2 separate regions of the Homo sapiens genome follow, and region 2 is linked to region 1. Evidence: fine-mapped expression QTL. A gene starts in region 1. The other region holds a variant in brackets. All regions are shown on one strand. Distances are between the middles of the regions. Region 1 holds the start of TDRD7 (tudor domain containing 7). Region 2 overlaps TDRD7 (tudor domain containing 7).

Region 1 (8,595 bases):
GGATATATGCTTTCCTCTAAGGAAATTTTTAACGTGGGTTCACAGTGGAGCTTTAAGGACTCTATATCCTCTCTGAAATCATACATCAAAATTTGCTTTCATCTATTCTGACTTCGCCACAAAAGGGTAAGAACCATTGTGCCTACGGAGTAACCAGTCTGTTCCATCTCTGATATCTCTTAATTCTCCTGAAATCCAATTATATCCAGGGTATGGGGGTGAATTCTTGAACTCCCTGGGTCTTGGACCACTTCACAAAGACAAACAAACAAAAAAAACAACGTTCTAATCTGCCCTTGCTCTGTCAGATACCCAGGCAATTCTGAGAACCTCCTGATGTCTTGGACAAAAATCTACCTGCAGAACAGACACTTTACCCAAGAACACATATGAAGGGCCAATAAACACATGAAGAGATGCTCAACATCATTAGTCCTGGGGAAATGCAAATTGACACCTCGGTGTGCTATCCCTATACATCCACTGGAATGGCTAAAATTAGAAAGACAGGCAATACCAAGTATTGGAGAAGATTTAGAGCAACTGGAAGTCTTACACATTACCAAGGAGAGAGTAAAAGTGGGAGTACAAAATGGCACAGCCACATTAGAAAACAGTTTGACGGTTTCTTAAAACGTTAAGCGTACACCTATCCCACAACCAGATGTTCTATACTTAAGTCTTTATGCCAAAAAACCACATCACCACACAAAGACCTGCATATGGCTGTTATTACAGCTTTATTTATAACAGCCCAAACTGGAAACAACACAAATGTGCATGAAATGTGAATGAATAAACAAATTGTGATAAAGCCATGCAATGGCTTACTATTCAGCACTAAAAAGGAACCGACTACCACTATGTGCAACAACATGGATGACTTTCAAAACCATCATGCTAAGTGATGAAGCCAGACACAAAAGATGACATCCTGCATGATTCCACTTATATGATATGCTAGAAAAGGCAAACCTATGATGACAAAAATCAGATCAGTAGCTGCTAGTGGATAAAGGTATGGGGAGAGAATTAACTGTAAAGGGGCACAGGAGAAGTTTTGGAATTATGAACTAATCCCATATGTTGATTGTGGTGGTAGGTACACAATTAAAGACGTTGGTCAAAACTCATCACACTGTACATTTAAATATGTATTATATGTCAACTATCAAAAAAGCTGGTTTAAAAAAAACTAGCTGCAGAGCTTCATTTTTCTTTACATATAGGGCAGTCTAAACATGGAACATCTTTGCAAGGATAAAGGATCTCAAACTTGGGTTCAACTCACATTATTTTATGATTTATTCTACATATTAGACTCTGAAATTTTTTTTTATTTCCTGCTACTACTAGCACTCTTTCCTTTGGCAGCTGCTTTTTACATCTTTCCCTTCTAAAATGTGGAGCCACAGGATGTTGTGAGTACTGCAGAGACCAAATTGGGGCTGGTTGTCTTTTAGGTCTGTCTTGGTCCATTCCTGCTGCTATAACAAAATATCTTAGACTGGATAATTTATAAATAATAGAAATTTTTTTCTTACAGTTCTGGAGGTTTGGAAGTCTAAGATCAAGGTGCCAGCAGATTTGGCATCCTGTGAGGACTTGCTCTCCTCTTCAAAGATGGCACCTTCTTGCTGAATCCTTACACAGTGGAAGGGGCAGAAGGCTCCCTTAAGCCCCTAAGGGCACTAATTCTATTCACAAGGACGAAGCCATCATGACTTCTCAAAGGTCCCACCTCTCAACACCGCAAGAATGGGGATTAGGTTTCAACATGAATTTTGTAGGGACACAAACATTCAGACCATAGCAAAGTCTATTAAAAATCCACTGCAATGTTTGGAGTAGACTGGAAGGGAAAGAACAGAAAGACATCTGAAATAGACTGAAATAGAGCAAAGGAGATGCAGAGAAATTCCAGAGAGAGACATTTAGGCAAACTTAGTCAGGGACCAGATCTAGGATATGAAAGAGAACAGTGTTCAAAGAAAAGCCCTGTTCAAAAACTCTGAACAATTCCCTACCGCCTTTGGGGAAACATCCAAGTGTCTGAGAGCTGGATATCAGGTTTTCCAGATTTACTTCCAATTTTTCTTTGTATTGCCTACTGCATCTTTTCACTGAATCAAAAGCTCTATAAGCACAGGCTTATCCATGAAAATTTGTTATTTAACAGCAGGTGTTCAATATATATTAGTTGATTGTCCATTCACCTTCTGACGGATGTTTGTATTCTTTCCATGTGGGGCTACGGCCAACACAACTGCCATGAGCACTCTTGTACAGGTTTTTGTGTGGACATCTGCTTTCATTTCTCCTGGGTAAATACCCAGGAGCAGAATTGCTGGGTTGCGTGGTAGGTTTGGTACATCCCTACAATACCATTCAGCAATAGAAAGACATGAACTATTGATACATGTAACAACATGGATGAACATAATTTGCTAAATAAAAGAAGCCAGGCAGCCCCCCAAAGGATAGTACATACGATTCCATACATAAAAGTTTTACATATAACTCTAGAAAAAGCAAAATAATCTATAGCAACAGAAAGCAGGTGAGCAGTTGAGGGGGCAAGTGACAGGGAGGGACAAGATATAAGAATTACAAAGGATCACAGTAAAACTTTTTTGGGTGATGGATATGTTCATGATTTTGATTGCAGTGATGGTCTCACAGTGATATATATATATCAAAACTTATCAAACTGTACATTTTAAACATTCAGTTTATTGTATGTCTTATACATGGCAGTCAAGCTGTAATAAAATACCGGTTGAATAAGCAGCAGGTTCTCAGTAAATGCATAATTTATCAAGCTGTACATTTTAAACGTTCAGTTTATTGTATGTCTTATACATGGCAGTCAAGCTGTAATAAAATACCGGTTGAATAAGCAGCAGGTTCTCAGTAAATGCATAATTTATCAAGCTGTACATTTTAAACGTTCAGTTTATTGTATGTCTTATACATGGCAGTCAAGCTGTAATAAAATACCGGTTGAATAAGCAGCAGGTTCTCAGTAAATGCATATCCAATGGTGCAGAGAAGTGTTCAATGTTGGCTGCAGGGATGCAAAGCAGGTGCCAATAAGTGTTGGTGGAATTAATGTGCAGAATAAATAAGTATTCACTTATTAGGTGTTCAATAACTTTAGAGTGAATGAATAAATTTGACAGATATTTATTGCTGATCGTGTGCTAGGCACTATCCTAGGCTCTGGGAATAGGTTAAGGAACCAAACAAAAATCCTTGTGCTCACAGAGCTTTAATTTTAGAAGGATAGCAGACAATAAAAGCATAAGTAAAATACATATAGTGTGCTAGATAGGTGCTAAGGAGAAATAAGGTTGAGAATGGGGATAGGGAAAGTCAAGGAAGGAGGTTGACATGTTAGAGACTGTGTCCACCGTCATTGAAAGGGTAATGCTTGAGAAAGGCCTGAAGGATATGGGCGGACAGAGTGTGTGTCTAGGGCAATAAAAAGTAACTGCTCCAGATGTTGAAGAAAATAATGTGCAGGAGTTGAACTGTTTGGAAGGAGGGTGAGCCCCATAGAAGGAGCCACCCTCGCCCCCTGCTGAGTCCCGGCTCGCTCGGCCCGCGCGTACCTGCGTTGTCCACCAGGAGGCGCTCCCGCACCCGCCCCGCAGGCGTCTTCCGCCGCCGGCCGGTGCGTGGGCACGCGCAGAAACCGCTAGGTGGCGACGGTTTCCCTTCCCACGCGCGGACGCCGGCGTGGGCCGACGCGGCCGGAGCGCCCGCGCGTGCGCAGAGCCGAGGCCAGGCTGCCCTCGAAGCGGGGCGGGGCGAAGCGGGGCGGGGCCGAGCAGGGCGGGGCGGGGGCTTGAGGTGATTCCCAAGCCGCGGGGCGGCTCCGGTGGTGCGGGGAAACCGAAAGTGGGCGGCGGCCGCGGCGGGGCCCCTGGCGGAGACGGCGGCAGGAGCTGGGCCCAGAGACGCGGGGACGGGCCGTGGGCCCCCGGAACGAGGTGAGTGCAGGTCCTGCGGGCTCCGGGCGCGACAGGTGCCGGGCGACGTCGGACGAGATTTCGGGCGGGCGCGGCGCACCTGGGTCACCGGTGGGACCGCGGCCAGGGCCGGGGGCTCCAACAGGCTCGGGGCCTTTTCCCTGCAGCCGCAGGGGATTGCCCCCGCCCCGACGCCTGGGAACCGGGCTGGGCGCCGGGGGAGTTGGAGTTCCAGAGCGTTGTGTTTTAAATCTCTGAAGGGACCCTGCTCCGGGCCGGGCGTTCACGCGGGAGTCGGACGGAGCCTCCTGCCGCCTCGGAAGCTCTGCGCCGTGGGGGAAATGCAGCAGCGGGGTGTGGACGCGGGCGGGAGATGCGGACCAGGAAGTGGTTCCCGCTACCGGCGCGACAGGCCGCAGCCGCCGCCCCCAGCGAGGGATGTCCGCGCTCCCCTATTTGAACCCAAGTATTTTACACCACGAACTTCTCTTGAAGGTCTCTATAATCTGGAGACGAGCCCCAGGCAGGCCGCTTAAGTAATGCAGGACACACATCCCCATTTCTCTCAAACGAGGAGCACCCAGTGGGTACAGAGCACCCAGCTGGGAGGGAAACATGGATCCGTGAGTAAGTTGTCTCTCAACTTTCAGTAGCATCCCCTCAGCAGGGTCAGACTCTCAGCTTCAGCTTGCTAGGAGGGAGCTTGGAGCCGGCATATCTTTCTGCTCCCATTCACTTGAGAGGTATATTTCCATTAATAGCTAAAGGTACCATTCTCAAATAATTTCTAAGAGCAGGGAAGGGAAACAACCACATTAGAACAAGTCCTGGCCCAGAAGAATTCTGATCACCGCCCATCCAAACCAAACCAAACCAAAAAACCACAGATCTAGTTCATTAACCCTCCTACCAACACCTCTCTGCTCTCCAATCGTGCCGGTGAAAAAAATGCAGAGAAATGTTCTCTCTAGAGAGATAGGCAACAGCTTAATAGCAGAAGTAAAACTTGGACCCAAATCCCTGTCTCGTCCTGGGCTGCCTTGATGTGTATGAATGTGTTGCATACTGCAAATAATGTGAACTTTGCAGACCTGGATTGAAATCTGGGCTTCTCATTTTACAAATTGTGTGATCTTGAACAAATTACATGCTTTCTCTTAGCCTGGTTTTCTATGTGTCAAATAGAGGTACCTGGCTTACTTTGCAAGGCTTTTCCAAGATAACCACTGTATATCCTTTGCCTCATAATAATTGCCAAGCAGTATTCACTCTCTTCCTCCCAACAAACGGTCCATGTTTTACATAATTGGATTTTAGTTTTTTGAGGGCAGGGACACAAAGATCTTTGTGTTTACTATATAATATAAATGGGCACATGGTGGATATTTTTGCATTTCCTCTCAGCTGACATTCATTGAGCATCAGTTACGTGCAAAGTACTGTTCTGGGTATAGGGAATTGCCCCTGGGGCCAGCTGGATTAGCACTCACATCTCCTGTGCCCCAATCCAGGGCCCTTTGGTGGCACACAGCCTCCGTCTTTGGTAGTTGCACGGTGAGACTGTGAGGCAGCAGTTGGCAGTGCCTTCAGATTTCAGTCTCTGTAGATTGAAAATGAAGTGTAATCCCCTGCTAATGCCCTTTTAAGTGTACAGGTTGAACATGGCTGAATGAACTATTGTATTGTGCATCAAGAGATTTTAAACTCCTTGCAGAACCCCTCTTTTAAGTTCTCTGTGCAATATAATCTAGCTGGATACTTAATGTGAATATAAAGAAAAAATATAATCCAACCCCGAGTGCCTAATTTGTGTTTGTCAAGTGCTGTTTTCAAGAATTGAGATTTGACATAGAGTGCTTTGCATCTGGACACTTTCACAGAAGTTCCTTGGTGAAATTTTATATTTACGTGAACTGTTGTTTCTTTGTGCCAAACCTGCTTTTTCCTCCCTCCACTCCCACCTCTGTACTTTTGAAAGCTTCATTCTTGTCATTATTTCCCTGTAAGCCAAATATGTTTACAGTTTTGTCTTTCAAACTAAAAGTAATTAATTTTGCAATTTTTAGTTGAAGACATGTATATATGCCAATCAGAACTTGATCAGTGCAAGCTACCCAGTGTGACTTCAAAGTAAGCTTGGCATTTTAGCCTGTGCAGCTTTGTCATGAGTAAGCAAACTCGGTTTTCATTACATATTTGGACCTTATTTCAGCCTTCAGTGAATCCAAGGAAAGTTGAGAATCATGGCTCTTGCCCACCTTTCTTATCTTCCTTGTGAAAAAAAGAGACCTGAAGTGACTTGTCACAGGTAATCAGTAGCGGAACTAGGATTAAGACACAAACTCCTTACTAAGCCACTTTATTATCTCAGGGTTTTTTCGTCTAGTATGTAGACTTATGGAAATCCCTTACTTACGTACATTCGTGGTATGCAGTTAAAATGCACGAATAATTTGGAACTTGAGATCACAAGAATAAAAAAGATAACTCCCTGAAAAAAACTCTTAAGGAAGTATACCATCATCTGAGGGTATTAATCATCTTTTTCCTTTAAAAACCGGTTGGTGAAGGAGTAATTGAAGTGGTAACAGACTATGATTAGAAAGAAAAGAGCATTTAAAAGTGTCGCAAGGTGAGAAATCATTTATTGGGTAAAGATCTTAGGAAAAAATTTTCCCTCTGAGGCTCAGTTTATTGATTTGTAAGATAAGGAGCTTGGGTTAGCCTAGACGATGCCTAAAATGTGTCAGCACAGACATTATGGGACTTTAAGTTCCCGCTGTTGCTAAAATAGTGTCTTCAAGGAGAAGGGCAGTTAGTTATTAGAAGTATATGCCCTAAAGAGATATCCAGATACTTCAAAATTGAACATCTAACTAAAAGAAGCTAAGAGAGATTACTTGGTGTTTTCAGTTTACCCTAATAATTCTTCTGATTTGTTTTAAGATTTAGTGCCACTCGACAACTTAAACTGATGACATGAAAAATGTAGTAAGGAAGATGAGCCAAATCATACAGTTGGAAATAGTTGAGCAAGAAGAAACTTAGAAAAGAGAAGGCATAGGATGGAAGCCAGACTAGCTCAGCTAAAGGCCTTTGACACCAGTAGTTAGAGGAAGCAGATAACATGCAAATGACTGAGCCAGGGAGGATCAATCAATGGTAGAAGGCGTTTATCTGGGATACACCAAAACCAGGTTCTTCAGAATAGGACTTCCTTGGGCCATTTTCAGGTATAGTAAAGAGAAAAGCTGTGAATTTACAAAATGCAGTTTTGAAGTAGAGTGAGAATTATTTTAGGCCACTTAAATTATTTAAATTTTGTTTCCCTAAAGATTGTCATCACTCCCCAACTCCCCACCCCACCTCATGTGCATTATTAGTGTCTTGGATAATTAAGATTAACTGGGTATAAGCGAAGAAAAAAAGGAAAGCACGAAAGCATAAAAAAGATAGTCTCAGCTACTCAGGAGGCTGAGGCGGGAGAATCACTTGAACCCGGCAGGCGGAGGTTGCAGTGAGCCAAGATTGCGCCACTGCACTCCAGTTGAAATTCCTATGATATACTTTCTTTTATGCTTCTAATGGATGATGTCTAAGATATTAAACTTTATTTTTATAGTTAGAACAAAGTATTCTTATATACCTTGAGAGTATAATTGCCATCTTCCGAAAGTTTCAAAAAAAAGTCATCATGAGCCACGTAACAAAACTCAGAGCATTTCCAAAGTGATATAGTTTAGAAAATAATGACGATTTTTTTTAAAGCTTACACTTTCTTTTTCGTTCACTGCCTGAAGTGATGTTGCTAATGTGGGAATTGAAATCAGACTGGCAAGTCGTGCATTTGAATACAATCACATTTAGCCTTCCAGGTTTTACTGCATTTAACTGCTTCTCACCAGCTTGGAGACCCACAGTCTTATACTCCAAGGGATTCCCCTTCCCTTCAAAAAGTTGTTTGCAAATAGAGAGTTATAGTCCTCCATGAAAGATAGCATACTTTAAAAAGGCAGGCAGGGGGAGGGAACTTAATTTACAGATTGCAACCATGTGGTCAAGCGTTGATTCTCAGTCTCCTCAAGTATGAGGCCATTTTTTGTAGCTTTAGAAAAATTTCGTGAAACCTCATACACTAGTAGTTGTGCTTGCAGTATCCATTGGTCAATTAAACATATAACTACCAAAAGCTGTTGTGAATTTAATATCAGTTTGTGTTTATGGATCCCAATAATATCTGCACACTCTGAAAAACAGGACTATAAGTACATGTGAGACATTTACTAATATTCAAGCCGTGCCTGCTGCTTGTCAGGATGTGTGGGCTCCTTGCAATCATGCTGCGGCCCTGACAGGGCCTAATCTGGCTCAGAGTGGACATGCTCAGAAATAATCTACTTGATGATTCTCAACCACAGTTTGGTGTTGCGATTGGCTGTCTCATTCAGTTTATAAGAATTGTTAACATTTGCAGATAATTTTTTAGTAACTTAAATTGGATTCAGAGTTATGCCTTTAATAGCTCACCTATGTTATGCTGTATTTTAGTGAGTAGGAGAGAAAAGGAGTGGTAGGTGGATGGAGAATTTCTTATTCATTCAACAAATATTTATTGAGCTCT
Region 2 (8,595 bases), 63 kb after region 1:
TTTGATGAGTTTCAATATGTTGTTCAGCATGTTGTGAGGTGACTCTCAGCCCCTTTCCCACTGAGATGTACTGTGGTGATGCTGTGAGGGTGTGACTGACACACCTTCATGTGCCCAAGCATGGGTTTGATCACAGGTCACATGCAGTTTTTGGCATAGTAGATGTATCATTGTTCTTTTCCTTCCTCCTAAAGGAAACAGAGGAATCCACCTGTATGAGAGTGCCATGTAGGGATAAACTTAAAGGACAGATGACACATTGGTCATGTCCGTGATAAGGAAAGGCATTGAAATATGCACCATGCCGGGGGGGACTTGAGCCAAATGCAGAAAATGATCATAATTATTTCATGAAAATTAGTACTCTGAAGAAATGCCTCCTTCCCAGTGGGATGAATTCTTATGTCACAGGAGCTGGGTTTGACTCTTATCTGTGAGATTAACCTGAAGAAATTTTAAAAACTTGTTAACAACTTTTAGAAGTTGGTGTTGGAAAGAACGTATCAAGGGCATAGGACAGGATTTAGGGTGTTGAAATTAAATGTTTGAGAAAAGTTCAAAGTTATATGTCTGGAGAACAGAACAAGAAGAAGAAAAAACTCGGAGGAGTCTGAATTTTAGCTTGTGGATTTAAAGTAGAAAAATATGGAAATAGGCATTATAGTACCATTGGGGGAATATGAGCTAGTTTTAATTCATTTAATACATTAACTTAGAATTGTCATATATGTTATGTGGAACTATAATTTTCTAAGAATTTAAAGAGTAGTTGGACTACAACAAAATTCATCTAATACCTGTGTTAAACACTACTTAATCTGTCTTTGATAAATCAGAAGGTTCTTTGGTATCCTAAGGGTCAATAAAAAAGAAACAATAGTGGTTGTCTCAATTTCCAATAAATGTGTGTTCATTTTATAAGAAAAATAATTGTATATATGTAGGAAGTGCATTACAAACATATGACTGGAAGACATAATTGATGGCTTCTCATATGTGTTAGTTTTTTGGTTTTAAATATGTGTTCATGTATAAAGTGAAGACTGTTTCTCCCAAGGTAGAAATTCTGATTGATTATCCGTTTCTCTGCTTGTTTTAAGATTGCCTGCCTTAGTGTATCATTCAAAAGGGCGTTTACATTATATTTTTTTAAAACCTAAGAGGTAAGATAAAGATTGTAAAACAAAGCTTTCATATAAAATTTAATAATTTTGCAGTAGGCTTATAATTTTAATAATGGTCAAAACAGACACAATCCATCTATTCATCTTGAAATGATTTTTCTAATTAAGTAGAAATTAAAAGATTCAATATTTTTCAGGCTTGGAAGTCCTAAGCGATGACCCTGATCTAGTGAAGGTGGTTGAATCTTTAACTTGTGGAAAGATCTTTGCAGTGGAAATACTTGACAAAGCTGACATTCCACTTGTTGTTCTGTACGATACCTCAGGAGAAGATGATATCAATATCAATGCCACCTGCTTGAAGGCTATATGTGACAAGTCACTAGAGGTTCACCTGCAGGTACCACTGTGATCACTGTTGTTGCTTGTTACACATTTTGTATGAGAGAAAAATCACCAGAATATTATACATTTTAGGCTAACAATTGATAGAGACAGATTACATTTACATTGAGGGGAAAAAAGGAGGGAGTGGGGCTAGAAGGGAAAAAAGTACCAAAATGTTCAGAGTAATTGTTTCTTAGGAACTGGATTTTTTATTTTCCATTTCCTGCAATGAGCATCTATTGATTTTATATGAGATTATTTTGTAAAGATAATAAGGAAAAATAACACAAAAGAAGGGAAAATTGGGTCCATGAAGATGTTGATTATTAGCTTTAACTTTTTTTTAATGTGAAGAACATAAATGCCCCAAAAGAAGGAAGCCTTTAAATAAATTATAGAATATCTACCCAAGAGAATAGGATGAGATGTTAAAAATGGTCATTTTAAAGATTTCATAGAAACAATGGGAAAACTTCTGTTTTAATAAGTAGAACCACTGTGAATGTCTTTATTATGGTTTGACTAAAAATGGGTAAAATTGAATATTTACTTTGATTATGGTTTTTTAAAATTACTCAAATTCATATGACCTCTGGACACAGGTTAGAAAGTAGACTGATGATGGATTTGATTTTGTGAGAGTTTATTTTCACTTCTGTTAATGTTACAAAACATGGTTTATGTAATTCTTTTTCTAAATAAATGGGGAGAAAATAAACCAACATTAAAGATAGTCTTGGCCTTTCAGACAATGGAGTATGGGAATGTATGCACAATGTCTATTTTGTGCTTGGCATAAATGATATTAGACATTTCTTTTAAAAAGAAAAGAATCCAAATTAGTTTTGTACATTTAAGCTATAAATTGCATTTCATCTTACATATACTCTAACTTAAAGATTTTAAAATGCAAAGACTTGTTATGGGATGTTTAGGTAGATACCCTTTAGGTAGGTAAGAGCTGCATTCTGCTCTCAAGCATTCACGAGGTATCCTTTGTCTGTTATAGGTTGACGCCATGTACACAAATGTCAAAGTAACTAATATTTGCTCTGATGGGACACTCTACTGCCAGGTGCCTTGTAAGGGTCTGAACAAGCTCAGTGACCTTCTACGTAAGATAGAGGACTACTTCCATTGCAAGGTATAGCAGAACCTCTTCTACCTCTAAAATTAGCCCTAAAATTACAAGCAAGAGTAATTTACTAAATTGCATAAGTATGAACAATTTTTTTTGTATGAACGATTTTTTAGTAGTCTGAAATGGAATCTCTAGAATAGTAGGTAAAGAGCTCCAGACTTCAGAGCTTTAAAAGAAAAACACAACACTAGTTTCTGCAATGTAAAACGAAGATAGCAATAGTGTGTACCCTATAGGATTGTCCTGAGGACACTGTGCCTGGCATGTAGTCAGTGCACAGCAATCGGTAGATGTGTTATTTATAACATGCAGTTGATGATGCCACAGTGCAGCTGCCTGTGACTGTCTGCTAGAGCCAGCTGACTCTTCTGCCTTAGGCAAGGAGAAACCTTGGAATTTAGGAGGATAATAAAACTTTCCTCCTTAGTTCTGCCTTCATCTTCCTCCTTACCCATCACTCCTTGAGCTCTTTATGGACCCTGAGAACCTGCCACCTGATAAATTTGGTTCTGCAGTTCAAATTGTATTAATAAGCTCCTTATCCTTTAATTCTACTATTTTTTTCTGAATCGAGCTCTGTAGAGGTTTTATTGTGCTTTAAGTTCCTAAAATGGTTTCCTTACCTCCATTAGGACATTATGGTCATATTTCAGAATATGCTGTGGTTTCCAAATCACTAAACCCTACTGCCACTTCTGCCCTTACCCCCTCGTCCCTGGAAGTGAACTCTTCCCTCTAACCCACAAAGCACATCAGGCACCTCAGGGCATTCATATTCAGGTTTATATTTTAGCTATTTGGGTACTTATTTGCCTTTCTAGACCGTATGCTTCTTGAGGGCATAGACTGTGCCTTACCAATTTTCTGCATCCCTTACAGTATCTAATCTAGTGTCTTATGTAGAATAGGTATGCCAAAATATGTGCCGAATCAGCTTAAACCCGCATTCAAAGTACAGTCTGGAATTGAGACATTCCTATAGCTTTATCTTGTTCTGTGTTACAGAGGTTTAATTTTAAGTCTATCTTTGAAAAATCTGAAACCCCCAGCTTGGCTGACTCTAGTGACTCATTTGTATGGATGTTGTCCTTATAACCTTTGGTGGTGAAAAGGACTCGATATTTCCTACTGCACTCGTAACCTAAGTGAGACATTGCCTTTGGGGAGAGTAGAAACACACACCCTGAACAGAAAGAGACCATGGACAGGTACCCCCAACTTCAAACTACAGCAGAAGAGGAAGATGAGGAGACTTCATCTTTACAGCTGTGATTTGTTGGTATTTAACTGGCACTGACATACATATTTGTGTTGATAACATTTCTTTGTTTTGGAATTAAAATGTTATCTTTGCATCTAAATGTGAAGAGATGAAAATGAAAAGAATAGGCCCACAGACAGCTCTCGCAACCTCCTCACTGTTCTTCTTTTTGTCAGATTCAACACCTCTCTTCATGTGTAACTGATGGAGCCAGTGCCTAAGTGAATCATAATGATCTTATGCTAATGTTTTTAGACATGTTAACAATGCTGATTTATGAGCCATGTGCATGTAGGGAGAGTAAACTACTGATGTCAACAAATGTATGAGTAACAAGACAAAAGTTTTATAACCCTGTGTGTTTGCTGCATCCATTGCTGGAAGTCTGACTACATGTCGGTTAAGTCTGCCAGTGCCACAGCGATCTGTTTTTCTAATGGTGTAGCAATATGCTCTTTGCTAAGAGTAATAAGAGTATCATGCATTTCTGTTTTGCAGCACATGACCTCTGAGTGCTTTGTTTCATTACCCTTCTGTGGGAAAATCTGCCTCTTCCATTGCAAAGGAAAATGGTTACGAGTAGAGGTAAAAATCAGTCACTTGGCTTTTTAATCTTAACTTATTGTGAAATATTTCAAATATACACATAGGTTTTTTTAAAAAATTGAATAAATACTCACAGACTCATCATCAGTTTATGAAATAAAACATGACCAGTATGGTTGAAATTTCCTGGTTGAAGTTATGGTCGAAGAAAGTTTACATCTCCTTTCTTCTGCCTCCACCCCAGTTTCATTTGTGTTTTTCTCATTCTTACTTGTTTATATTCTTACTGTATTTGTACTTGTAGATACACACTTTTACTATATATTTTTAATATTTAAATAGTGGAAATATATTAATGAATATGTGTATATAATATAAAGGCAAATGAATAAGTGTAACTAAATGAATAAATATTTTCAAACTTTAT[G/A]TAAGTTGTAAGAGGTATTGGTCATGCTTTTTCATTCATTATGTTTGTGAGATTCATTCATGTTGATGTGTGCAGCTGTAGTTCATCTATTTTTACTGCTGTATGATTGAACACTATTAATATGCCAACGTTATCACTCCATCTTCCTGATGATGGATATTTAGATTGTTCCTAATTTTTTGAACCTTCCTGTCTGTGTCTTCCAGGGTACATACATAGGAATGGAGTTTCTAGGTATTGGGAATGCATATCTTCAATTTTACTAGATCTTGCTTAATTGCTCTCCAAAGTTGCCTTCCATTGAGAGTATATCCCTTTAAGAACTGTGGCTTCATGGGGCAGTGTCAGATCCTCCCTGCCTCCTGCCTGGATCTAAGGCCATGTCTCCTGCCCAAGACAATTTTGGCTTTAAAGTTCACATACTCTTCTATTTCTAGTCACTAACAATTGTCTTATTTTCTTGCAAGCTCAGTTACGAACTTGAAGGGAGTTTTGTTGTGGTTTATCTTGCGTTTCTATATGTTTTTAAAAAGGCAAGTTTTGGATTTTTGTGATTGCTTTCCCTCCCTCTCTTCATCTAGTTTGAGGTGGCACACACCTATAATCCCAGCACTTTGGGAGGCCAAGGCGGGAGGATCACTTGATGTCAGGAGTTTGAGACCAGCCTGGTCACAATAGTGACATACCATCTCTACAAAACCAAAAAGAAAAAAAAAAAAAACTAAACAAAAAAAAATTAAGAAAAAAACATTGGCTTGATTTTTTTTTTCTTTTTTTTCTTTGATACAGAGGTTCTTAACCTAGATGCAAGGACCTCAACTTTCAGGGGGGTCCCTCAACCCTCCTGGAATTGTATGCAAATTGTGTGTGTGCTTGTATTATATATTTTGGGGGAAAAGTATGCATAATTTTGTAAGATTCTCAAATCAACCCCCAAAAGGTAAGAATCGTTGCTTTACTGAATTTTTTAAATGCTGCACAGCAACATTTTGATAACTTAATTGAATTGATTTTTTTCATTATTTAAATAAAACTTGGTCATGTCTACTTGAATGAGAGTAGCAGTTTTGAAGTAATTATTGCTATTAATGTGACTGTATGTCAGAAGGCTGAAATCTCGGGTCATATGACCAAGGGGTATGTGCCTAGGTATAAACTTCAAAAACATGACTCGTTGAAAAGGTCATGGCATTCTTCAGATCTTAAAGTTCTGTGTGATTTAATTTAAAATATATAAGTGTATGCATACTAACTTTTTCAACTTTTTATTTTGAAATAATTTTCCTTTTTTACAAGTTGCAAAAATAGCACAAAGAGGTCTCATTGGCCTTTTACCTTCTCAAATGTTAACATCTATATAACCATTGCATAATTATCAAAGCCAGGAAATTGACATTAATACAAAACCATTAGTTAATCCACAGAACATACATTTCCCAAATTGTCCCACAAAGTACTTTTTCTGCTCCAGCATACAATCTGGATCCCACATTGTCTTTAGTTGTCATGTCTTCTTAGTATACTCCACCCTGGCAGTTACTCAGCCTTTCTTTGCTATTCCTGACTTTTTGAAGAATAGCATTATGTTGTAAAGTATCTCACAATTTGAGTATCTTCATGTTTAAATTTAGGTTATGCATTTTTGGCAGAAAGAAGCCTTCTTAGTGTATGTCCAAATATTTTAGATAAATATCTAGTATTATTTTTGTTATTATCAAATTGTATATTGTCTACCTTCAAGGTAGACAAAAGGTTTGAGTACTCATTCTCTTAGTGATGTATGGAAAGTCAGAGAAGGAAAAATAATTAGTGAAAAGCAGATCCTATGTTTAATCATGTATTTATTCTTGATAGTTATACAAATAATTGCAAAGGTAATTATTGTTTTGACCCCAAAACAATAGTTTTTCCCTTATATTTTAATATTTTGGAGAACAGACTGTATCTTATAATCAGCAATATATAATAATGTATCAAATCATTTTATAATAAATCACGTCCTAGAATTGGAGAAATAATAAATATTACTATACTTATTTTACTGTTTATTGTCAGTTTGCTGATTATTACTGATTAACTAGATGTTGAAAGCAATTCTACTCTAAAACAATGTTTAGTAGGCTGGGCGCGGTGGCTCACACCTGTAATCGTAGCACTTGGGAGGCCAAGGTGGGTGGATCTTTTGAGGTCAGGAGTTTGAGACCAGCCTGGCCAACATGGTGAAACCCCATCTCTACTAAAAAATACAAAAAAATTAGCTGGTTGTGGTGGTGGGCACCTGTAATCCCAGCTACTTGGGAGGCTGAGGCAGGAGAATCACTTGAACCTGGGAGGCGGAGGTTGCAGCGAGCTGAGATTGCACCACTGCACTCCAGCCTGGGTGACAGATCAAGACTCTGTCTCAAAATAATAATAATAATAATATTTAGTAAATAAATACATTTTAAATTAGGGGAAAATTTTAACACTGATAGTCTGTTCCTTTTAATATGCATTCAGGATTGTACAAAATGTAATTGCACAGAAGCATTTTGGTCTTTTGAATATGCTAATAAATGAGCCAACACTTATCTCATTTCAGATCACAAATGTTCACAGCAGCCGGGCTCTTGATGTTCAGTTCCTGGACTCTGGCACTGTGACATCTGTAAAAGTGTCAGAGCTCAGGGAAATTCCACCTCGGTTTCTACAAGAAATGATTGCAATACCACCTCAGGTACTATGTTACCAGCCTGGGAGATTTGCTGGAACAGATTTGGATGTGTTCATAATCTTATTGTAAGATGCCTTCTCAGTTTTGATCTCATTAATTTTTAAGAAAATTGGAAATTGTCCAAATGTGGTTGTCTGCTGGTTTTCAGAAGTAAAACATTGCTGACTTAGACAAGAAGACCAGTCATATTTACATACTGTTGTTTGAGAAATGTTTGTTTTCAAGAGCATCCAGTCATTAAGCTGTGTTGTCCAGTTACAGGTTCCATTTTGATAATTAGATGCCAGTACTGACTTATGTACAGTTCCAGAATATTGTGTATAAATGTTTATTTTTAGAGTTTTTAGTTTATTTAGGTAACCATTTTCTTTGGAAATCTGTTTAGACATAATCATTTTCTCGGTGACTTCCCCACCATACATTTTAATTAAAAGATGAACTTCGGCTGATCCTTTCTTTATTCATGAATGTTCAGATGATAAGGATTTTGAATATTTTGAATTGTTTAGAACTACTCACTACCTTTAGGAGAAATAGAGGATTTTGTGCAGAAATTAATATCTTTTAAAAAATAAAACAATGCGGTATTCTACAACTTCAAGATGCCCAGTTACTAATATTTTCAAGAAGACATCTTCTGCCATCAAACTCAGTAAATAAAACATTGTCCATAATTAGCATGGCTTTTGACATGTCTCTCCCTCCCATCACCATTGCTTTTTCTAGCCGTGACTATTACAGAGAAGCTTTTTTCAAAATCATTTTTACTGTCCATTGTTCAGCCATAATTCTGGAAATTGATGGGCCTTTAAGTGCTACTCTGACTTAATAATACCTCTTGTTGGAACAGCCATGCAGGGCCAGGCTTACCTAGAAAAGATCCCCTGGGCTGGAGGGCAGTTGGGAATCTGTCCCACCGCTGTGATTGTCTGAAAGTCCACAACAGTACCACCTGTATGCTACGGCATTAACAATCACTAAACTTTTTTTTTTCAT

Evidence for each region. PIP is the estimated chance that this variant, and not a neighbour inherited with it, causes the effect. A credible set is the group of variants that fine-mapping cannot tell apart.
Region 2: its variant is the best candidate, but not a certain one, in a credible set for the expression of TDRD7 in blood mononuclear cells (TOPMed, PIP 0.64).

What each region holds. Positions count from the first base shown.
Region 1 is chr9:97,408,244-97,416,838 of GRCh38, forward strand. TDRD7 (tudor domain containing 7) reads left to right here and starts at 3,853. Exons shown (of 17, transcript NM_014290.3): 1 at 3,853-3,995. RefSeq lists silencers at 3,540-3,889, 3,910-4,119, 4,204-4,498 and enhancers at 3,834-4,335, 4,336-4,835, 4,440-4,699.
Region 2 is chr9:97,470,972-97,479,566 of GRCh38, forward strand. TDRD7 (tudor domain containing 7) reads left to right here. Exons shown (of 17, transcript NM_014290.3): 10 at 1,322-1,524; 11 at 2,521-2,655; 12 at 4,412-4,498; 13 at 7,468-7,602. Among named protein-coding and RNA genes, the nearest start is that of TMOD1, 26 kb to the right of the region's middle. The variant G/A (reference allele first, on the strand shown) is at 4,887.